Homo sapiens: one gene and its partners. The protein of the gene in region 2 purifies or fractionates together with the protein of the main gene of each other region. This does not show direct contact. Each region holds a gene or a part of one and is shown on either strand. Other genes may lie near its edges.

Evidence for each region.
Region 1: the proteins of KLRG2 (region 2) and COLEC12 purify together in Homo sapiens (affinity purification with mass spectrometry; 2 studies listed by BioGRID and IntAct, with this or other methods). This does not show direct contact.
Region 3: the proteins of KLRG2 (region 2) and CD47 purify together in Homo sapiens (affinity purification with mass spectrometry; 2 studies listed by BioGRID and IntAct, with this or other methods). This does not show direct contact.
Region 4: the proteins of KLRG2 (region 2) and GXYLT2 purify together in Homo sapiens (affinity purification with mass spectrometry; 2 studies listed by BioGRID and IntAct, with this or other methods). This does not show direct contact.
Region 5: the proteins of KLRG2 (region 2) and EMILIN3 purify together in Homo sapiens (affinity purification with mass spectrometry; 2 studies listed by BioGRID and IntAct, with this or other methods). This does not show direct contact.
Region 6: the proteins of KLRG2 (region 2) and PRSS23 purify together in Homo sapiens (affinity purification with mass spectrometry; 2 studies listed by BioGRID and IntAct, with this or other methods). This does not show direct contact.
Region 7: the proteins of KLRG2 (region 2) and F5 purify together in Homo sapiens (affinity purification with mass spectrometry; 2 studies listed by BioGRID and IntAct, with this or other methods). This does not show direct contact.

What each region holds. Positions count from the first base shown.
Region 1 is NC_000018.10:316,237-319,469, reverse strand, and holds the end of COLEC12 (collectin-12), read left to right. Parts: 3' UTR 1-2,733; downstream 2,734-3,233. UniProt on the Homo sapiens protein: Scavenger receptor that displays several functions associated with host defense. Promotes binding and phagocytosis of Gram-positive, Gram-negative bacteria and yeast.
Region 2 is NC_000007.14:139,480,874-139,484,976, reverse strand, and holds the start of KLRG2 (killer cell lectin-like receptor subfamily G member 2), read left to right. Parts: upstream 1-1,303; 5' UTR 1,304-1,334; coding exon 1,335-2,091; intron 2,092-4,103.
Region 3 is NC_000003.12:108,042,591-108,046,031, reverse strand, and holds the end of CD47 (leukocyte surface antigen CD47 isoform 1 precursor), read left to right. Parts: 3' UTR 1-2,941; downstream 2,942-3,441. UniProt on the Homo sapiens protein: Adhesive protein that mediates cell-to-cell interactions. Acts as a receptor for thrombospondin THBS1 and as modulator of integrin signaling through the activation of heterotrimeric G proteins.
Region 4 is NC_000003.12:72,954,046-72,957,545, forward strand, and holds part of GXYLT2 (glucoside xylosyltransferase 2 precursor), read left to right. Parts: intron 1-1,052; coding exon 1,053-1,304; intron 1,305-3,183; coding exon 3,184-3,307; intron 3,308-3,500.
Region 5 is NC_000020.11:41,361,641-41,363,818, forward strand, and holds part of EMILIN3 (EMILIN-3 precursor), read right to left. Parts: coding exon 1,998-2,178; intron 1,415-1,997; coding exon 1-1,414.
Region 6 is NC_000011.10:86,807,042-86,810,541, forward strand, and holds part of PRSS23 (serine protease 23 precursor), read left to right. Parts: intron 1-589; 5' UTR 590-602; coding exon 603-1,754; 3' UTR 1,755-3,500.
Region 7 is NC_000001.11:169,544,982-169,548,481, forward strand, and holds part of F5 (coagulation factor V preproprotein), read right to left. Parts: intron 1,612-3,500; coding exon 1,461-1,611; intron 1-1,460. UniProt on the Homo sapiens protein: Central regulator of hemostasis. It serves as a critical cofactor for the prothrombinase activity of factor Xa that results in the activation of prothrombin to thrombin.

The DNA of each region.
Region 1 (3,233 bases), on a different chromosome or scaffold from region 2:
TGGTACTAATAAAAACTCCTAGGGTTTCCTGTCAGATTTAATTCTACCCAGTGGCAAAGAATTTTTTCAATTGTGGCTTTAAAAAAATAATTAAATATACATGTGTATATATATATATATATATATATTTTTTTTTTTTTTTTTTTTTAATGTTTCATTTCCTCAGAGGAACCAATCACTTGGAATGTCTAGAAATATCCTTGCAGATTTTGCCAGTGTCAATCAAGCCTGCACACATGCACAGTGAAGCGGGCTGTGCCTGCCTTGAGCCCATCACCAGCCAACATTCTTGACGTGTGCCTGACCAGACACAGAAGAAATGGGCAACTCAAGACGTGCTTCCACTTCATTTTGGTGGAGTCGGGAGGTGTGGGGGATGGAGAGGCATCTGTTGGGAAGGGCACTGAATCTGGCCTATCTGGAAGGCCCTGTGTCATGGCTGAGCTATGACTGTACTTGGCATCAGATCCCTACAGAGCCAACATTAACTGTCAGGAACGTATGGCGTCACATCAGCCAAAGGCAGAGATGCTAGAAAGATGGGAACCGGCTACGTGTTACCTGGAAAGTTTGTTTTCTTAAGTCATATTCCAAAAACATAACTCCAAGGCATACGCATGATAAAATGCAAGAATAAACTTTTGGCCACTTTGTGGAACTCTTAAAAGAACCTTTCCAGCCGGGCGCAGTGGCTCATGCCTGTAATCCCAGCACTTTGGGAGGCCGAGGCAGGCAGATGACTTGAGGTCAGGAGTTCGAGACCAGCCTGGCCAACGTGGCAAAACCCCATCTCTACTAAAAATAAGAAAATTAGCCGGGTGTAGTGGCACATGCCTGTAATCCCAGCTACTCAGGAGGCTGAGGCAGGAGAATCGCTTGAGCCCAGGAGGCAGAGATTGCAGTGAGCCAAGATCGCACCACTGCACTCCAGCCTCGGTGACAGAGCAAGACTCCATCTCAAAAAAAAAAAAAAAAAAAAAACCTTTCCTCTGAGCCCATCTTCCTTTCGCTCCTTGACTTTCCTTGACTTGCTGTTGGAAAGTCTAATATGAAAAGGGCTGAAACTAGGCATTAAATATAACTGATGCTCAAAGGTAAGATTTCCATCCAACAGATTCCTTCTCCCTCCCAAGGGTCTTCCCAGGCAGTGCTGCTACTTATCCCAAATAAAATGGTAAAAGAATAAAGACAGCCGGGCGCGGTGGCTCACGCCTGTAATCCCAGCACTTTGGGAGGCCGAGGCGGACGGATCACAAGGTCAGGAGATCGAGACCATCCTGGCTAACACGGTGAAACCCCGTCTCTACTAAAAATACAAAAAAAAAATTAGCCGGGCGCGGTGGCGGGCGCCTGTAGTCCCAGCTACTCGGGAGGCTGAGGCAGGAGAATGGCGTGAACCCAGGAAGCGGAGCTTGCAGTGAGCCGAGATCGCGCCACTGCACTCCAGCCTGGGCGACAGAGCGAGACTCATCTCAAAAAGAAAAAAAAAAAAGAATAAAGACAGAGTTTGACTTTCCCACCTGCGAACAAGTGGACTGTACTGCTTTGCCCACAGTCTCCATTCCCCATTCATGCTGTTTTCACAGCCCAGTAATGGCCAACTGCTCAGCACCTGTGTGCCCTGCTGTCAGGCAGGTGGGACCCACAGTCCTCTGGGCCTAAACTGCTGAAGCCTGCACCACAAGGCGGGCACGGCATTCCAACACCTCTTCAGGCTCAACAGCCTTTAGAGGCTACACTGAGTCCTCTTTTTCATGCTCTTCCTGGTTTTCAAGTGTCAATTAAAATTTGTCTTCAGAAGAAACTTGAAAATAAGTATCTGATGCCGTCATCAGGATAGACTAGTATTAGCTTTCGCAGCTGAAGTTATTGCTCTCCCAGCCCTAATAATAACTTACCAAGTGCTTATTATTTATCAGGCACTGGTCCAAGTCCTTCAATCAGATTGTCTCACCTGATCCTCCCAACAGCCCTAGGAAGCAGGTCTTACTACACTCCCCATTTCACAGGGACTGGGGCTTGGGGAGGTGATGCGGTTTCCTGGGTCACTCCATTACTGAGTAGTGAGACAGGATTCAGACGCAAGCTTTGAAAATGTTCTAATTTTCTTTAGAAGGAAGGGCCCTTCTTAATAGCACACTGAATAAAATCAAATGAATAATCACACATTACAAGATGCCTCCTATACGTCTCTATATTTAGCTACTTACATACCAGGTTTCTTTTTTGTTTGTTTTTGTTTTTAAGACAGAGTCTCGCTCTGTCACCCAGGCTGGAGTGCGGTGGCGCGATCTCGGCTCACTGCAATCTCTGCCTCCCAGGTTCAAGCGACTCTCCCGCCTCAGCCTCTGCAGTAGCTTAGGGACTACAGGTGCGTGCCACCATGCCAGGCTAATTTTTGTGTTTTTAGTAGAGACACGGTTTCGCCATTTTGGCCAGGCTGGTCTCAAACTCCTGACCTCAGGTGATCCACCCGCCTTGGCCTCCCAAAGTGCTGGGATTACAGGTGTGAGCCACCGTGCCCGGCCTACACACCAGCTTTCTATTCACCTACACACAACTGATGCTCTTTTGGAGTGGAGAGTTTTAGTAAAATATGATGGGGTCTTCAGGCACCTGAGTTGCTACTTACTACTATGAGAAGATAGAAAATGTTTTTTCCTCTAAACAGCTTTTGAAAGAATGAATGCACAACAAGGCAAAAAATAAAAACTTTCTTTTCCTTTTCTACGATCAATGTTCAACAACTCGTTCCTTCCAATTTGTAACAGAGTTGAAGCTGAAACAGACAAAAAATAGTAATAGCTGCTCCCATTTAAAGAAAAATGCTTGAGGAAACAGCTGTATAAATCAAGAAACAATACCAAGCAGATGACGAAACTGATCTCTTCTTGAGAACGTAAGCATGTTAGCTCATTCGTGACTCAAAGTCATGTAATAATAGTTGACATATACCACTTTTCACATACATTATCGCTTCCAGTCTTCACGCACATCTATTGTTCCTGCTTGAGAAATGAGGAAACTGAGGCTCAGGTTGAAGACTTGCCCATGGCTCACGTATCTGTCACAGTCACTTTCCAAAAAGCAAATCTGATCAGGTTCCCCACTCAGGTCCCCAAATCTGAATCCATCCTACCTCTCACCCTCGGCTTAAAATCTTCCAAACAATCCTGGTTGGGCTCAGGACATACCTGCAGGGGCCGTAAGGCACTTGGTACCTGGTTCCCAAC
Region 2 (4,103 bases):
TGCTTCAAATTTAGCAGAATCCTTGTTGCTCTGACAGGAGCTCTTTTCAAACTGATGTCTTATCCTTCTTAGTGCCTCAAACTAGATCTTGTCGAGACATGTGATAACAAGTTAGTACAAATTTATTTTGGTGCCAAAAAATTTTCAAATCCATGCATAGTTTTTTTCATAGTATGAATTTTCCATGAACCTTTTGAAGACCGCTTGTATAGAAAAAAACAGTATATATAGGGTTTGGTGCTATCCAAAGTTTCAGGCATTCACTGGGAGGTCTTGGAACTATCCCAGTGGATAAGGGAGGACTACTATGCTAAAAACTATCCCTTGTTTAACTGAAATTCAAATTAAACTGAGTGGCCTGCATTTTATCTGCCAACCCTACCCTGGGGGCACTTAAAAATACCAGAGGCCAGGCGGGGCGCGGTGGCTCACGCCTGTAACCCCAGCACTTTGGGAGGCCGAGGCGGGCAGATCACGAGGTCAGGAGATCGAGACCATCCTGGCCAACATGGTGAAACCCCGTCTCTACTAAAAATACAAAAATTAGCCGGGCGTGGTGGGGTGGGTGCCTGTAGTCCCAGCTACTCACGAGGCTGAGGCAGGAGAATCGCTTGAACCTGGGAGGCGGAGATTGCAGTGAGCCGAGATCGGGCCACTGCACTCCAGCCTGGCGACAGAGCAAGACTCCGTCTCAAAAAAAAAAAAAAAAAGAAGAATTGCTTATCCACGCCCTGTTTCTTTTCTCTTAGCGTTACTCAGTGGGGGAGTCCTCCCAAGTATGATGGAGAGTCCTTTCGAAACCCTGCTGGATTGTCAGGACAACCAACTGGGCTACTTTTCCACAGGTCGCCCCAATTCCTTTGGATTCTGATTTCTCTGAGGTCCCAGGATCCAGACAGGCTTGGCCAATCCTTCCCCGCCCAAACTGTAACTCTCAAAACCAACACCCCGGCATAGGGCTGGAGGGGAAAATGGGTGAGGTCAGAGACAAAGAAGAGGGAAGGGTCAGGCGGGGCTCCGGGTTCCCTGCCACAAGCCTCCGCTGGTGTTCTGCTTTTCTCCCGAGAGCTCCCGCCCACCCTGCAACCCTCGCCTGGCCCCGCTGCCGTTCTCAGCTCCCTCCCAGTGCCTGGTGGAGGCCGGGGCTGTGTCCCGAAGGGGGTCGGGGCAGCAGAACCTCAGCCACAGCCAATCACAGCGGGGTCCTTCGGGGAGGGGCGTGGCCTGACAACTTCGGCGACGCGGCTGGACCAATCCGGACGGAGGAGAGCGAAGCTCCTCTGCACTGGGCCCAGGTGCGCTCCTCAGCGTCTCCGGGTGGCGGGGCGCGCGGGATGGAGGAGTCTTGGGAGGCTGCGCCCGGAGGCCAAGCCGGGGCAGAGCTCCCAATGGAGCCCGTGGGAAGCCTGGTCCCCACGCTGGAGCAGCCGCAGGTGCCCGCGAAGGTGCGACAACCTGAAGGTCCCGAAAGCAGCCCAAGTCCGGCCGGGGCCGTGGAGAAGGCGGCGGGCGCAGGCCTGGAGCCCTCGAGCAAGAAAAAGCCGCCTTCGCCTCGCCCCGGGTCCCCGCGCGTGCCGCCGCTCAGCCTGGGCTACGGGGTCTGCCCCGAGCCGCCGTCACCGGGCCCTGCCTTGGTCAAGCTGCCCCGGAATGGCGAGGCGCCCGGGGCTGAGCCTGCGCCCAGCGCCTGGGCGCCCATGGAGCTGCAGGTAGATGTGCGCGTGAAGCCCGTGGGCGCGGCCGGTGGCAGCAGCACGCCATCGCCCAGGCCCTCCACGCGCTTCCTCAAGGTGCCGGTGCCCGAGTCCCCTGCCTTCTCCCGCCACGCGGACCCGGCGCACCAGCTCCTGCTGCGCGCACCATCCCAGGGCGGCACGTGGGGCCGCCGCTCGCCGCTGGCTGCAGCCCGGACGGAGAGCGGCTGCGACGCAGAGGGCCGGGCCAGCCCCGCGGAAGGAAGCGCCGGCTCCCCGGGCTCCCCCACGTGCTGCCGCTGCAAGGAGCTGGGGCTGGAGAAGGAGGATGCGGCGCTGTTGCCCCGCGCGGGGTTGGACGGCGACGAGAAGCTGCCCCGGGCCGTAACGCTTACGGGTGAGTGCTCACCTGCGCCGGCAGCCGACGCCGCCAGGTCGGGTGGACGTAGCCGAAACCCCCACACCCGCCCAGCCCTGGACCGCTGGGCAGCTGACCGACTAAGGGACCCAGTTGGCCATCCCGATCCCCAACCCGATCTGGCCTCTCGGGCTTACAATCAATAACATTCCTGTCTACGTAACTGTAATTCACATTGTTGCCGTGTCTCACGCCTGTAATCCCAGCACTTTGGGAAGCCGAGGCGGGCGGATCACCTGAGGTCAGGAGTTCGAGACCAGCCTGACCAATATGATGAAACCCCGTCTCTACTAAAAATACAAAAATTAGCCTGGCATGGTGGCATTCACCTGTAATCCCAGCTACTCAGGAGGCTGAGACAGGAGAGTCGCTTGAACCCGAGAAGCGGAGGTTGCAGTGGGCCGAGATCATGCCATTGTACTCCAGCCTGGGCAACAAGAGAGAAACTCCGTCTCAAAAAAAAAAGAGTAAAGCCACTCCCCTTCTCATCCTCCCCTACCCGCACTCCCGAACTTTCAAATTCCCTCTTAGCATGCGCAGCACCTTTGAGAAGTAGCAGTGGAAGGAACTCCAGATGAGGGGAAGTCATTCAGGATCAGGTGGCAGGGGTGGCAGCCCAGATCCCCCCATCCCTGCACTGCCAAGGACTTTCTGGAAGGTCCAGGCTGCTGCTTTCTTTCCACCACACTGAGGAACATTTAGCCCCAAACACTCATCCATTCAGTAGATAGTGAGTGGGACCACAGGGTAGATGTGCCAGTAGTATGTGCGGCTGGTTATTTTGTGGTGTGGGGGAGGGGGAGCTTGACACAGAAGAAAGAGCCCACAAAAGATACAGACTGTCCTGGATAAGGAGACTGGAGGGAGTAGTTGGTGAATTTGGGGCAAGAGATAGCCAATTTTTTTCTTTTTTTCTTTTTTCTTTCTTTTTTTTTTAAGAAATAAGTTTTGCGCTTGTCACCCAGGCTGGAGTGCAATGGCACAATCTCGGCTCACTGCAACCTTCGCCTCCTGGATTCAAGCGATTCTCCTGCCTCAGCCTCCTCCCGAGTAGCTGGGATTACAGGCGCCGGCCACCATGCCTGGCTAGTTTTTGTATTTTTGGTAGACAGGGGGTTTCATCATGTTGGCCAGGCTGGTCTGGAACTCCTGACCTCAGGTGATCCAGCCGCCTCAGCCTCCCAAAGTGCTGGGATTACAGGTGTGAACCACCGGGCCAGCCAGAAAGCCACATCTTGAAAGGTGAGTAGGAGTAGGGGGTGCTAGGGATCCCTGCTAGGTAGAGAGACTGGAAGGAGCAACGGCCAGGAGGGGTCAGAGCCCCGCCCAGCAGGCAAACTGGCAAAAGCTTGGCTGATTGAGAAGCAGGCCAAGCCCACTGACAGGCACCAAATTCCCAGGGCCTCTAGTTGAGAGGTTCTTAGACAGGGCTAGGGTTCAGGGGCTTGGATCACTCAGGAACTTTTGCAGAGTTTGATGTGAGCACATTTTCTGTGTGATGGAATATTAGTTTTCTATTGCTGTTGTAACAAATTACCACAAACTTAGTGTCTTTAAGTGACACAAATGTATTATCTTACAGTTCCGTTAAGTCAGAAGTCTATAATGCCGGCTCACTGGTCTAAAATCGAGTTTTCAGTGGGGCTGCATTCCTTTCTGGGGGTCTAGGGGAGACTCCCTTTTCTTGCCTTTGCTAGCTTCTGGGCTTTTCTTAGGTCAAGCCCTTCTCTATATTAAAATCCAGCGTTGTTGGTAGAGTCCTCCTGCTGCCACTTCTGATGCTCACCACCTGTCTTCCTCTTCCACATATAAGGCTCCTGAAGCTGGGCACGGTGGCTCACGCCTGTAATCCCAGCACTTTGGGAGGCCAAGGCGGGCGGATCACTTAGGGTCAGGAGTTCAAGACCAGCCTGACCAACATCGTCAAACCCCATCTCTACTAAAGATATGAAAATTAGCCAGGCATGGTGGCAGTCACCTGTAATCCCAGC
Region 3 (3,441 bases), on a different chromosome or scaffold from region 2:
TGTGGATGTGTGTTTGTATGTGCATACGTATGAGATAGGCACATGCATCTTCTGTATGGACAAAGGTGGGGTACCTACAGGAGAGCAAAGGTTAATTTTGTGCTTTTAGTAAAAACATTTAAATACAAAGTTCTTTATTGGGTGGAATTATATTTGATGCAAATATTTGATCACTTAAAACTTTTAAAACTTCTAGGTAATTTGCCACGCTTTTTGACTGCTCACCAATACCCTGTAAAAATACGTAATTCTTCCTGTTTGTGTAATAAGATATTCATATTTGTAGTTGCATTAATAATAGTTATTTCTTAGTCCATCAGATGTTCCCGTGTGCCTCTTTTATGCCAAATTGATTGTCATATTTCATGTTGGGACCAAGTAGTTTGCCCATGGCAAACCTAAATTTATGACCTGCTGAGGCCTCTCAGAAAACTGAGCATACTAGCAAGACAGCTCTTCTTGAAAAAAAAAATATGTATACACAAATATATACGTATATCTATATATACGTATGTATATACACACATGTATATTCTTCCTTGATTGTGTAGCTGTCCAAAATAATAACATATATAGAGGGAGCTGTATTCCTTTATACAAATCTGATGGCTCCTGCAGCACTTTTTCCTTCTGAAAATATTTACATTTTGCTAACCTAGTTTGTTACTTTAAAAATCAGTTTTGATGAAAGGAGGGAAAAGCAGATGGACTTGAAAAAGATCCAAGCTCCTATTAGAAAAGGTATGAAAATCTTTATAGTAAAATTTTTTATAAACTAAAGTTGTACCTTTTAATATGTAGTAAACTCTCATTTATTTGGGGTTCGCTCTTGGATCTCATCCATCCATTGTGTTCTCTTTAATGCTGCCTGCCTTTTGAGGCATTCACTGCCCTAGACAATGCCACCAGAGATAGTGGGGGAAATGCCAGATGAAACCAACTCTTGCTCTCACTAGTTGTCAGCTTCTCTGGATAAGTGACCACAGAAGCAGGAGTCCTCCTGCTTGGGCATCATTGGGCCAGTTCCTTCTCTTTAAATCAGATTTGTAATGGCTCCCAAATTCCATCACATCACATTTAAATTGCAGACAGTGTTTTGCACATCATGTATCTGTTTTGTCCCATAATATGCTTTTTACTCCCTGATCCCAGTTTCTGCTGTTGACTCTTCCATTCAGTTTTATTTATTGTGTGTTCTCACAGTGACACCATTTGTCCTTTTCTGCAACAACCTTTCCAGCTACTTTTGCCAAATTCTATTTGTCTTCTCCTTCAAAACATTCTCCTTTGCAGTTCCTCTTCATCTGTGTAGCTGCTCTTTTGTCTCTTAACTTACCATTCCTATAGTACTTTATGCATCTCTGCTTAGTTCTATTAGTTTTTTGGCCTTGCTCTTCTCCTTGATTTTAAAATTCCTTCTATAGCTAGAGCTTTTCTTTCTTTCATTCTCTCTTCCTGCAGTGTTTTGCATACATCAGAAGCTAGGTACATAAGTTAAATGATTGAGAGTTGGCTGTATTTAGATTTATCACTTTTTAATAGGGTGAGCTTGAGAGTTTTCTTTCTTTCTGTTTTTTTTTTTTGTTTTTTTTTTTTTTTTTTTTTTTTTTTTTTTTGACTAATTTCACATGCTCTAAAAACCTTCAAAGGTGATTATTTTTCTCCTGGAAACTCCAGGTCCATTCTGTTTAAATCCCTAAGAATGTCAGAATTAAAATAACAGGGCTATCCCGTAATTGGAAATATTTCTTTTTTCAGGATGCTATAGTCAATTTAGTAAGTGACCACCAAATTGTTATTTGCACTAACAAAGCTCAAAACACGATAAGTTTACTCCTCCATCTCAGTAATAAAAATTAAGCTGTAATCAACCTTCTAGGTTTCTCTTGTCTTAAAATGGGTATTCAAAAATGGGGATCTGTGGTGTATGTATGGAAACACATACTCCTTAATTTACCTGTTGTTGGAAACTGGAGAAATGATTGTCGGGCAACCGTTTATTTTTTATTGTATTTTATTTGGTTGAGGGATTTTTTTATAAACAGTTTTACTTGTGTCATATTTTAAAATTACTAACTGCCATCACCTGCTGGGGTCCTTTGTTAGGTCATTTTCAGTGACTAATAGGGATAATCCAGGTAACTTTGAAGAGATGAGCAGTGAGTGACCAGGCAGTTTTTCTGCCTTTAGCTTTGACAGTTCTTAATTAAGATCATTGAAGACCAGCTTTCTCATAAATTTCTCTTTTTGAAAAAAAGAAAGCATTTGTACTAAGCTCCTCTGTAAGACAACATCTTAAATCTTAAAAGTGTTGTTATCATGACTGGTGAGAGAAGAAAACATTTTGTTTTTATTAAATGGAGCATTATTTACAAAAAGCCATTGTTGAGAATTAGATCCCACATCGTATAAATATCTATTAACCATTCTAAATAAAGAGAACTCCAGTGTTGCTATGTGCAAGATCCTCTCTTGGAGCTTTTTTGCATAGCAATTAAAGGTGTGCTATTTGTCAGTAGCCATTTTTTTGCAGTGATTTGAAGACCAAAGTTGTTTTACAGCTGTGTTACCGTTAAAGGTTTTTTTTTTTATATGTATTAAATCAATTTATCACTGTTTAAAGCTTTGAATATCTGCAATCTTTGCCAAGGTACTTTTTTATTTAAAAAAAAACATAACTTTGTAAATATTACCCTGTAATATTATATATACTTAATAAAACATTTTAAGCTATTTTGTTGGGCTATTTCTATTGCTGCTACAGCAGACCACAAGCACATTTCTGAAAAATTTAATTTATTAATGTATTTTTAAGTTGCTTATATTCTAGGTAACAATGTAAAGAATGATTTAAAATATTAATTATGAATTTTTTGAGTATAATACCCAATAAGCTTTTAATTAGAGCAGAGTTTTAATTAAAAGTTTTAAATCAGTCCAATGTGTTTCATAATTATTTTTTAATTTTCTCCATGGTGCAGTGAAAACATCACATGAGAAAGCAGGAGACCTGGGTGCTAGTCCTGGCTACACTACCAGCTAGCAGAGGACCTGGGAAAGCTACTTCCCTGGATCTCAGTGTCCGTCTCTGCCTGTAGAATGAGATAAGTCTCTTCAAGACTGAAATGTATGGTTCTCCATTTTAATTATCAGTTAGGACTATTGATTACAAGTGAAAGAAAACTTAAATCTAAGAAAAATGGGATCTATTGGCTAACATAACCTGAAAATTCAGACACACAGCTGGATCCTGGGCCTCCAAAAAGTGTCATAAGGACACAATATCTTGCCAGTTCTCAGCTTCACTGTCCTTCGTGTGGCTTTACTCTCCCAGGTTCCTGTGATGGCAAATGGCAAGCTGCAATCCCAAACCCATTTTCTTCCAGGTTCAGGGAGAGTAGAGGGGTAAAAAAGAGCGCATGTCTCTCTCTTAATAGTCCT
Region 4 (3,500 bases), on a different chromosome or scaffold from region 2:
ATGCCACTGCACTGCAACCCGGACAACAGAGCAAGACCCTCATCTGCAAACTATATATTTTTTTAATTTTTTATTTTGAAATGGAGTCTTGCTCTGTTGCCAGGCTAGAGTGTAGTGGTGCTATCTTGGTTCACTGGAACCTCCGCCCCCTCCCCGGGTTCAAGCGATTCTTCTGCCTCAGCCTCCTGAGTAGGTGGGACTACAGGCGCACACCACCACGCCCAGCTAATTTTTGTATTTTTAGTAGAGACAGGGTTTCAACATGTTGGCCAGGATGGTCTCGATCTCTTGACCTCGTGATCCGCCTGCCTTGGCCTCCCAAAGTGCTGGAATTACAGGCCACTGCTCCCAGCCTGTGTGTGTGTGTGTGTGTGTGTGTGTGTGTGTGTATTTGTATTTATATATATTTATATATATTTTAAAAGATGCAGGGCCCCCCATTAACACTAGAAGAAATGGATCCAAAGATGGAGAGTATTTACCCCCAAGGCTTGGTATGAGCTGCTTTAGAGATTGTCCACTTCAGGTTGCAGTAAGCCAAGATCAGGCCACTGCACTCCAGCCTGGGCGACAGAGTGAGACTCCATCTCAAAAATAAATAAATAAATAAATAAATAAATAAATAAATAAATAGAGATTGTCCACTTCAGGTTTTCTAATGCCACACTGGATGTTCCAAGGAAAACCTAAGAGAGAAAAACAAGTGGCCTTATTGGAAGATGGAAGAAGTGAGAGCCACAATAATTTGCTGATGTTTTCTTTTTTTTGTAAGTTCAACCCTTATCAAATATAGTCCAGGGTCCCAGAATTGGGCTAATCCAGACCAAGATTTATCTTCTTTTAAGTCTCTACCTCTTGATTGACACTCATTCCTCAAGTCAAAGGAGAAGGAAGGAATGGAAGCTAAGAGTGGTACCTTTCCAGAATTTAATACGAATCAACAAAAGTTGGTAGCATTATTTACCTATCAGGCTACTTCCTTTGTTTCTGACCTGTTTTTGTTTTGTTTTCTTCCCTCCTCTCCCCTTTACACCCACTCCTTACACACAAAGGTGATTTTAAAGGATGTGGACTCACTTCTCTACGTGGACACCGATGTCCTCTTTCTGAGACCTGTTGATGACATCTGGAAGCTTCTGAGGCTGTTTAATTCCACCCAGCTTGCAGCCATGGCCCCTGAGCACGAAATCCCCAAGATTGGCTGGTACAGCCGCTTTGCTAGGCATCCTTTCTATGGCTCTGCAGGAGTTAATTCAGGAGTCATGTTAATGAATTTAACTCGGATAAGAAGTACCCAGTTCAAGGTAAACGAGTGCTTTAAAATTCCTTGTTTAAAGACTGGGAGTTGGTCTTGTCAACAGTGGCACTACCAGAGTGTCAATATGCTGATTTTGGAAATTGGGTGGCCTATAGGTGAGGATAAAAGGAACCAGAGAAAAGTATTTAGAAAATTATAGAATATTTGTTTATTCAGGAAAAGCTCAGATGGCAATGGAATTTAAAGCTTCAGCAAAGTCGCCATTCAGGAATACTATGTTGCATTTCTGAATTCCATAATGTTTGAACGCTTCATACCCAATGCTTCAAAGACTATGTAAAATTTCTTCAAATTACCCTAGGGATTATTTATGTAAGTCCGTGACGATATTTGTATAAGGATGTTCGTGATCTCATCTTTTATCCTAGCAAAGAAGTGGAAAGAAGCTAAAAGAACATCAGTAGAGAACTAGTCAAAAAAAATTATCCTCCTGGCCAGGGGTGGTGGCTCACACTTGTAATCCCAGCACTTTGGAAGACCAAGGCAGGTGGATCACTTGAGGCCAGGAGTTTGAGACCAGCCTGACCAACATGGCGAAACCCTGTCTCTATTAAAAACACAAAAATTAGCCAGGAATGATGGCGCACACCTGTAGTCCTAGCTATTCAGGAGCCTAAGGCAGGAGAATCGTGTGAACCCGAACAGCAGAGGTTGCAGTGAGCCAAGATCACGCCACTGTACTCCAGCCTGGCGACAGAGACTGTGATTATTTGTATGCCTTAGAAATTTCCAGAAGAATTAATGGGGCATGGTGTCACGTGGCTGTAGTCTCAGCTACTTGGGAGGCTGAGATGGGAGGATCGCTTGAGCCCAGGAGGTCGAGGCTGCATTATAGCCACTGCACTTCACCCTAAACAACAGAGTGAGACCCTGTCTCTAAAAAAAGAAAGAAAGAAAGAAAAAGACATGTCCAGAAGAATACCTAAGAGACCATTAATTGTTAACTGTGGATACGTCTGGGGAAAATGGGAATGGGATATGGAAGAAGAATATTTTTACTTTTTTATTTTATATTTTTGTGTGCTGTTTGAATAATTCAGTCTGTGAATATGTTACTTTTATTTTAAAAGTAAATCATTGTTTAAGACAAGGAAAGGTGTTTTTCCTTAAGATACCTGAACTCTGTTATCTGTATTTTGTTCCTTCACCTCACAGTGAGGAAATAAGCCTAAGAAAGATGTTCACCTAAGAAAGGTGAAGTAGAGTAGAGAATCCTGAAGTAGAGACTGCTGTTGAGAAAGACTTCGCCTCTTAGGTGTGGGGACTCACGCCTATAATCCCAGCACTTTGGGAGGGAGGTGGGTCACTCGAGGTCAGGAGTTTGATATCAGCCTCGCCAACAGGGGGAAACCCCATCTCTACTAAAAATACAAAAAGTTAGCCGGGCGTGATGGCGTGCACCCGTAGTCTCAGCTGCCTGGGAGGCTGAGGCACGAGAATCGCTTGAACCCGGGAGGTGGAGGTTGCAGTAAGCCAAGATTGTGCCACTGCATGCCAGCCTGGGCGACAGAGCAAGACTCTGTCTCAAAACAAAAACAAAAACAAAAACACAGGAAGGAAGGGAGGGAGGGAGGGAGGGAAGAGAAGAAAGGAAGGGGTTCAATTCCAGGCATGGTTTTCTGAGTAGAAACCATAGGTTCAACTTTCAGTCCCTGGTCTATCTAGTATCCGTGTGTACAGCTGAAAAAAGCGATACAATCAACAGCCCAAATTTTGCTTTGTTCTGTGACCTGAGAATAGCAGGACCCCTCCTGTATTTGTTTCCCTCCTCTGAAGGGAAGAAAACTAGTCCCTTTACATTGTTTCTCAGTGGACAAAATGTATTTGCTTTGCTTCAGCTGTTCTGATGGTTTTCTTTTTTCCAGAACAGCATGATTCCAACAGGCCTGGCTTGGGAGGACATGTTGTACCCTCTGTACCAGAAGTACAAGAATGCCATCACGTGGGGAGACCAGGATTTATTAAATATTATTTTTTATTTCAACCCAGGTAGGTTATCTTTGGAGAATGCCTTTTGTGTAGGAGTACACTCAGCACACCCCACGGAGCACATTCCATGCCCGGGTTGCTATTGACTAGGCTTGAATTGTGCACAGAGGAGCCTGTGTTCCCCAGCGAAGTTTGCCCTTTCATCCGCCCCCCTGGGTATCTGATGGAGGCGGGGCCTTGCACTACTGACACA
Region 5 (2,178 bases), on a different chromosome or scaffold from region 2:
CTGGAGCCTTGGCTGCTGACCTGCTCCTGGATGGCCTGGACTTCGGCTTCCACCTTGCGTTCCCGCTCATCCAGGGACGTGTTGGCAGCCAAGAAGGCATCAGAGTACTGGCTGACAGAGTCACTGAGGCCTGTGAGCGACTTGCTCACTGAGTTCAGATTGACCTTGAGCAGAGTGATCTCGCCTTGAAGTGAGCTGCCCGTCCCTTCTGCCAGCTGTCCCTGGACCTCGGCCACAGTGCCATTGAGCTGCTGGAGCAGTGCTGCGTGGCTGGCCACCTGGCGTAGGAGGGCCTCGCTCCGGCTCTGCCAGGCCTTCACCTCTGCCACGAGGCTGTCCAGGATGGCTGAGGTGGTGCTCGGGGTGCACGAAGTCTCCAGTGAGACCAACCGTTGCTCTAGCACAGCCAGCTCTGTCTGTACAAGGGGCCGAGCTGACCTGCCCGGAGAGGCGCTGTCATGGCTTAGCTCCCCAGCCAATGTTGCTAGGCGCTCCTCGAGGCTCTGCACGCGCTCTTCCAGCATGGTCCCAAAGCCGCCCACTCCCCACCCCCCCATGTCCAACCTCAGACAGCATCCCCTTGCTCCACCCTCTGTCCCATTGAGCGTCTCCAGACCCTCAAGCAGCCCGTCCACACCTCCCTCGAGCATGGCAGCAGAGAGCCTCGTAAGCTCATCCCCGGCCGGGGCACCGGGGCCCCTTTGGGTCTCGGTGACTGCCTGCAGGGCCCTCTCAAGGCCATCCATACGGGCATTGATCAAGGCTAGTTGCCCACAGCAGCTGCCCCTGCCAGACACGCTCAGGCCCTGCAGCTGGCTGCCCAGCTGTGACAGCTCCTGGCGCAGGGCCAGCTCCCGGCCATCAAGGCTCTGGTGCAGCCTCCGGCTGGCGGCCTGACCCTCCTCACATTGCCGCCGTACCTCCTGCACCCGCAGGTCACACTCACTCTGGACGCCTTGCAGCTTCTGCTCAAAGCCATCCAGCAGGCTCCCCCAGAGTCGGTGCAGCCGTCGGTCCACGTACTCCTCCAGCAGGGCCAGGGAGGTGAGCGGGGATGGTGGGGCTTCCCGCAGCCGCTGCAGGTGGGCCTCATGGCCAAGTGCCAGCCCATGCACCTTGTCTAGAAGCTGCACCTTGGTCTGAAGAGTGTTGCTCACCTCTGTCACCTTGCTTAGGATCTCGTCTAAGGGAGGTGTTAGTGGCCCTCTGGCTCTGTCTCCTGGGCCCACAAGCCCCTCAGGGATGACCCCAAAGCCCACAGGGACAGCAGGAGCCCTGGGGCCACCAGTCATCCTGTTGGGATCCTCGTGGCTAGCCACCAGGCCACTGAGGGTACCATATGTTTGAGCCAGGCGCTGGACATCACCCTCCAGGCGTTCCAGCCGCTCACCAAACAGCCCTGGGCCTTTCCTTCCTGGGAAAGAGAAGAGAGCCCCAGGGGCATCACTGGCCTCACCCTCTCAGCTTGTCACAATGCCAGGCCACCCAAGAGACTTTCTGTTCTTTTTTTTTTTTTTTGAGACAGAGTCTTGCTCAGTCGCCCAGGCTGGAGTGCAGTGGTGTGCTCTTGGCTCACTGCAAGCTCCGCCTTCCGGGTTCATGCCATTCTCCTGCCTCAGCCTCCCAAGCAGCTGGGACTACAGGCACCCACCACCACGCCCGGCTATTTTTTTTCTATCTTTAGTAGAGATGGGGTTTCACGATGTTAGCCAGGATGGTCTCGATCTCCTAACCTCGTGATCCACCCGCCTCGGCCTCCCAAAGTGCTGGGATTACAGGCATGAGCCACCGCGCCCAGCCCAGACTTTCTGTTCTAAGCCTACCTTCTCACTGGGCATAACTCCCTCAGCTTTATGGTGGGGTGAAAGTGGGGCTTGGGGCTTGCCCCTCCCCATCCATGCCGGAGCTCAGCCAGCCTGGGATCAGTCCCCTCCCTGCCCCTGCCACTGAGCCCAAGAAACCCAATCACCTTGGAGGGTCTCCTTGGGCAGACTCACCATGAGGGCTGGGGGCTGCTCTGCTGTAGGAAGGGGGCCTGGGGCCTGGGTCCAGCTGCCCTGAAGGAATCTGAGGCTCAGGCTCCAGCTGGGGTGAGGCAGCCCCATGGTCCGTGAGGTGCTCAGGGCAGCGTTTCCCAGTGAAGCCGGGACAGCAACGCCAGGCGAGGTCTGTCACTGT
Region 6 (3,500 bases), on a different chromosome or scaffold from region 2:
CCTTTCTCGAGTGCACCATCATTTAAAAACCACAGGAGTGGTGGTAATTGTGACACTGTGGAGCTGTCCTTCTTTGATGTCTCAGTCACTCAGTAAGCCATGTAATTTAAATTGACCCTCTGAGTGACCAAGTTGCTCTGAAAATTTTCCAAGTACATGTTACAATGAGAATGAGAGAAGGAGGAGGGAAAGGCGGGGACATCATGAAGGTAGAAGAGGAGGAGGTTTAGAATCAAGCACAAAGAGGGCTCAAAATTACGTGGAAATTGGGGCTGGTCAGTCAGTTAGCCAGGGGACTAATGACTTTATGCCTGCTACTCTGCAGTCTACCATCATTAGGGACATCTTAAACATAGAAAGGAAGGAACACCCAATTTCACTTCAGGCACCCAGCCACAGGAACTTTCCTAAGGTTGAGCCTTTGCGTTGAAAGTGAGACCGTTATCTAAGGATTCCTCTCCACACCCTGATTCCTGAGGAGTGTTCAAAGACTCAGAAACAATGACAGGCCTGCTGCTGAGCTTTGCTGTCTGCAGTAAATGAACGTTCAGCCCTTGCCCTCCTGACCTGCTTGTCTTTGTTTCTACAGAACAGTGCTCGGCATGGCAGGGATTCCAGGGCTCCTCTTCCTTCTCTTCTTTCTGCTCTGTGCTGTTGGGCAAGTGAGCCCTTACAGTGCCCCCTGGAAACCCACTTGGCCTGCATACCGCCTCCCTGTCGTCTTGCCCCAGTCTACCCTCAATTTAGCCAAGCCAGACTTTGGAGCCGAAGCCAAATTAGAAGTATCTTCTTCATGTGGACCCCAGTGTCATAAGGGAACTCCACTGCCCACTTACGAAGAGGCCAAGCAATATCTGTCTTATGAAACGCTCTATGCCAATGGCAGCCGCACAGAGACGCAGGTGGGCATCTACATCCTCAGCAGTAGTGGAGATGGGGCCCAACACCGAGACTCAGGGTCTTCAGGAAAGTCTCGAAGGAAGCGGCAGATTTATGGCTATGACAGCAGGTTCAGCATTTTTGGGAAGGACTTCCTGCTCAACTACCCTTTCTCAACATCAGTGAAGTTATCCACGGGCTGCACCGGCACCCTGGTGGCAGAGAAGCATGTCCTCACAGCTGCCCACTGCATACACGATGGAAAAACCTATGTGAAAGGAACCCAGAAGCTTCGAGTGGGCTTCCTAAAGCCCAAGTTTAAAGATGGTGGTCGAGGGGCCAACGACTCCACTTCAGCCATGCCCGAGCAGATGAAATTTCAGTGGATCCGGGTGAAACGCACCCATGTGCCCAAGGGTTGGATCAAGGGCAATGCCAATGACATCGGCATGGATTATGATTATGCCCTCCTGGAACTCAAAAAGCCCCACAAGAGAAAATTTATGAAGATTGGGGTGAGCCCTCCTGCTAAGCAGCTGCCAGGGGGCAGAATTCACTTCTCTGGTTATGACAATGACCGACCAGGCAATTTGGTGTATCGCTTCTGTGACGTCAAAGACGAGACCTATGACTTGCTCTACCAGCAATGCGATGCCCAGCCAGGGGCCAGCGGGTCTGGGGTCTATGTGAGGATGTGGAAGAGACAGCAGCAGAAGTGGGAGCGAAAAATTATTGGCATTTTTTCAGGGCACCAGTGGGTGGACATGAATGGTTCCCCACAGGATTTCAACGTGGCTGTCAGAATCACTCCTCTCAAATATGCCCAGATTTGCTATTGGATTAAAGGAAACTACCTGGATTGTAGGGAGGGGTGACACAGTGTTCCCTCCTGGCAGCAATTAAGGGTCTTCATGTTCTTATTTTAGGAGAGGCCAAATTGTTTTTTGTCATTGGCGTGCACACGTGTGTGTGTGTGTGTGTGTGTGTGTAAGGTGTCTTATAATCTTTTACCTATTTCTTACAATTGCAAGATGACTGGCTTTACTATTTGAAAACTGGTTTGTGTATCATATCATATATCATTTAAGCAGTTTGAAGGCATACTTTTGCATAGAAATAAAAAAAATACTGATTTGGGGCAATGAGGAATATTTGACAATTAAGTTAATCTTCACGTTTTTGCAAACTTTGATTTTTATTTCATCTGAACTTGTTTCAAAGATTTATATTAAATATTTGGCATACAAGAGATATGAATTCTTATATGTGTGCATGTGTGTTTTCTTCTGAGATTCATCTTGGTGGTGGGTTTTTTTGTTTTTTTAATTCAGTGCCTGATCTTTAATGCTTCCATAAGGCAGTGTTCCCATTTAGGAACTTTGACAGCATTTGTTAGGCAGAATATTTTGGATTTGGAGGCATTTGCATGGTAGTCTTTGAACAGTAAAATGATGTGTTGACTATACTGATACACATATTAAACTATACCTTATAGTAAACCAGTATCCCAAGCTGCTTTTAGTTCCAAAAATAGTTTCTTTTCCAAAGGTTGTTGCTCTACTTTGTAGGAAGTCTTTGCATATGGCCCTCCCAACTTTAAAGTCATACCAGAGTGGCCAAGAGTGTTTATCCCAACCCTTCCATTTAACAGGATTTCACTCACATTTCTGGAACTAGCTATTTTTCAGAAGACAATAATCAGGGCTTAATTAGAACAGGCTGTATTTCCTCCCAGCAAACAGTTGTGGCCACACTAAAAACAATCATAGCATTTTACCCCTGGATTATAGCACATCTCATGTTTTATCATTTGGATGGAGTAATTTAAAATGAATTAAATTCCAGAGAACAATGGAAGCATTGCCTGGCAGATGTCACAACAGAATAACCACTTGTTTGGAGCCTGGCACAGTCCTCCAGCCTGATCAAAAATTATTCTGCATAGTTTTCAGTGTGCTTTCTGGGAGCTATGTACTTCTTCAATTTGGAAACTTTTCTCTCTCATTTATAGTGAAAATACTTGGAAGTTACTTTAAGAAAACCAGTGTGGCCTTTTTCCCTCTAGCTTTAAAAGGGCCGCTTTTGCTGGAATGCTCTAGGTTATAGATAAACAATTAGGTATAATAGCAAAAATGAAAATTGGAAGAATGCAAAATGGATCAGAATCATGCCTTCCAATAAAGGCCTTTACACATGTTTTATCAATATGATTATCAAATCACAGCATATACAGAAAAGACTTGGACTTATTGTATGTTTTTATTTTATGGCTCTCGGCCTAAGCACTTCTTTCTAAATGTATCGGAGAAAAAATCAAATGGACTACAAGCACGTGTTTGCTGTGCTTGCACCCCAGGTAAACCTGCATTGTAGCAATTTGTAAGGATATTCAGATGGAGCACTGTCACTTAGACATTCTCTGGGGGATTTTCTGCTTGTCTTTCTTGAGCTTTTTGGAAGGATAATTCTGATAAGGCACTCAAGAAACGTACAACCACAGTGCTTTCTTCAAATCATATGAGAAATACTATGCATAGCAAGGAGATGCAGAGCCGCCAGGAAAATTCTGAGTTCCAGCACAATTTTCTTTGGAATCTAACAGGAATCTAGCCTGAGGAAGA
Region 7 (3,500 bases), on a different chromosome or scaffold from region 2:
TGAGTATCCAGTTCATACATTTCATTATTGTTAAAAGGGACACTGCTGTAGGCAATATTTTTATTTACTTATGTACTAAGCATAGTAAAAAACCAAAGGTATGATTTCTACAAGGGCAGGGCTCATGTCTACCTCGATTACCACTCTTAGCCTTAGTACCAGTATAATGACTGGCATTAACAAATATTTAAATACCTACTTAAATCACTTAAGTGACTTTAATAATTTACATGATGTATTATTAGTTTATACCTCATTCTAGATGTTTTTCTAAATGGTCTATAACTGCATTGTTCAATATGGTAGCCACTGGCTACAAGTGGTTATCGAGCACTTGAAATATGGGTAGACTGGACTGAGATATGCTGTGAGTATAAAATATACATTGAATTTCAAAGACTTAGTAATAAAGTAAGTCTCATTAATTTTTATATTGGTTACATGTTGAAATGATAATATTCAGGATATACTGAGTTAAGTAAAACATATTACTAAAATTAATGTCACCTATTTCTCTTTACTTTTTAATGTTGCTATCAGAAAATTTTAAATTACGCATGTAGCTCATACGTAGTTTCTATTGGACAGCACTGGTCTAGAACTATGATAGATTCACTGCCAAAAGGAAGTTATGCAAAGAAAGCTGAGAGTAATTTTCTGTTTGAATTATTTGACCTGGCACCTGTCAGCTCTGATAATCCCTAGCTGTCAGTCATCTGAAGCTATATGAACAGAACATGCAGAAATCATCCTCACATGTGTGATTACCTACTAGAGAAGGTGATTACCATGACTCTAGACTCTGAGGATCAGTAGGGGGACCCTGGCTGTTGTGGAGAAGTTTGCTTCCAGCTGGCTCAGTGACATTTCTCTCAGACTGCCATGGCAGTGCTTTTGGCCACTGAACTTTAGAACTGCAGCAAATGCCGGAACCCTCATTCAGGGAATTCCTTTTGTTCTGAAAATCTTACTGATCACTTGAAATGTCTTCATGCATGCCTTTCCAAGACTCTTGGGTCCCTATACTCATTTTGCTCTACTTTGATGTGTCAATCCATCTTTGGATTACTTGCCTTCTTTCTGTCCTAGCCATATATTCACCCTGAACTCAGTCTAGGATACTATTGACATGGACTATAACACCTTCCATTAGTCCTACTCTCTCACCCTTTTCCTCACCACGCAGAGTATGTCTGTGTACACACACACACACACACACACACACACGCTTGGAATAGAAGATCAAACGCATTTCTAAGGATGTGAGCCTTTGACCTCTTGCTTAAAAATGTTGCTATGATGTCACCCACGGATTTCATCACCAAGTCTTTGGACTGGAAGTGAGGATTGGAGGTGCCCCTTAGCGAGTAGATTTTAATCCATGTCTCTGACTCTAGGCACAGTCATATTTCAACCACAGGAATGAAAAACTGATGAACAAAAATAGTACTCTGACTTACTGCTCATGATGTTTGATTCATAAAACTTGGGGTCATCACGTTTCACCTCATCAGGATTTTCACAAAACTTGTTGATGTTGTCCTCAAGGTACCAGCTTTTGTTCTCATCAAACACAGCAAACACAGCCTGCTGTTCGATGTCTGCTGCCCTCTGGAGGACAAAACAGTATAGTACTGGTACAAGAACAGACGCATAGACCAATGGAACAGAATAGAGAACTCAGAAATAAGGCTGCGCACCTACAACTATCTGATCTGTGACAAAAGCAAGCAATAGGGAAAGGATTCTCTATTCCATAAATGGTTCTGGGAAAACTGGCTAGCCGTAGGCAGAAAATTGAAACTGGACCCCTTTCTTACATCATATACAAAAATTAACTCAAGATGGATTAAAGACTTAAATGTAGGCCTGGCGCGGTGGCTCACGCCTGTAATACCAGCACTTTGGGAGGCCAAGGCGGGTGGATCACCTGAGGTCAGGAGTTGAAGACCAGTCTGGTCAACATGGCAAAACCCGTCTCTACTAAAAAAAAAAAAAAAAAGAAAAGAAAAGAAAAGAAAAGAAAATTAGCCAGGCATCGTGGCTTATGCCTGTAATCCCAGCTACTCGGGAGGCCGAGGGGCCGAGGCAGGAGAATCACCTGAACATGGGAGGCAGAGGTTGCAGTGAGCTGAGATCGTACCACTGCACTCCAGCCTGGGCAACAGAACGAGACTCCATCTCAAAAATAACAGAAACAAACAAACAAAAAACAACAACAACACACTTAAACGTAAAACCCCAAACTACAAAAACCCTGGAAGACAACCTAGGCAATATTATTTGGGACATAGGGATGGGCAAAGCTTTCATGACGAACATGCCAAAAGCAATAGCAACAAAAGCAAAAATTGTCAAATGGGATTTAATTGAAATAAAGAGCTCCTGCACAGCAAAAGAAACTATCAAGAGAGTAAACAGACAACATTCAGAATGGGAGAAAATTTTTGCAAACTATGCATCTGGCAAAGGTCTAATATGGAGCATTTATAAGGAACTTAAATTTACAAGAAAAAAACAAACAGCCCCATTAAAAAGTAGGCCAAGGACAGGAACAGACACTTTTCAAAAGAAGACACACATGTGGCCAAAGAGCATATGAAAAAAACGCTCAACATCACTGATCATTAGAGAAATGCAAATCAAAACCACAATGAGATACCATCTCGCACCAATAAGAATGGCTATTATTAAAAAGTCAAAAACTAACAGATGTTGGCAAGGTTGTGGAGAAAAAGGAACACTTATACACTCTTGGTGGGAGTGTAAATTAGTTCAACCATTGTGGAAGATACCATGGTGAGTCCTCAAAGACCTAAAGTCAGAAATACCTTTGAACCCAGCAATTCCATTACTTGGTATGTACCCAAAGGAATATAAATCATTCTGTTATAAAGACACATGCATGCGTATGTTCATTTTCGCACTCTTCACAATAGCAAAGACATGAAATCAACCCAAATGCCCATCAATGACAGACTGGATGAAGAAAATATGGTACATATACACCATAGAATACTATGTGACCATCAAAAAGAACAAGATTATGTCCTTTGCAGGGACATGGATGGAGCTGGAGGCCATTATTCTAAGCAAGTTAACGCAAGAACAGAAAACCACATACTGCATGTTTTCACTTACAAGTGAAAGCTAAATTATGAGAACACATGGACACATAGAAGGGAACAATACATACTGGGGCCTATCAGAGGATGGAGGGTGGAAAGAGGGAGAGGATCAGAAAAAATAACTAATGGATACTAGGCTTAATACCTGGGTGATGAAGTAGTAAGTACAACAGACCTCCATGACACATGTTTACCTATGTAACAAACCTGCACATCCTGCACATAAGTACCCCTGAACTTAAGAGTAAAAAAAAAAGAAAAAAAAGTGCTGTATTCAGTCATTAACATTGCAGCAAATTATCTACACCACTGAGTTCTCAGAAACCAAAGTGACATAGTTCTTGGAACTACTGAAGCCATATAATTCAGGCA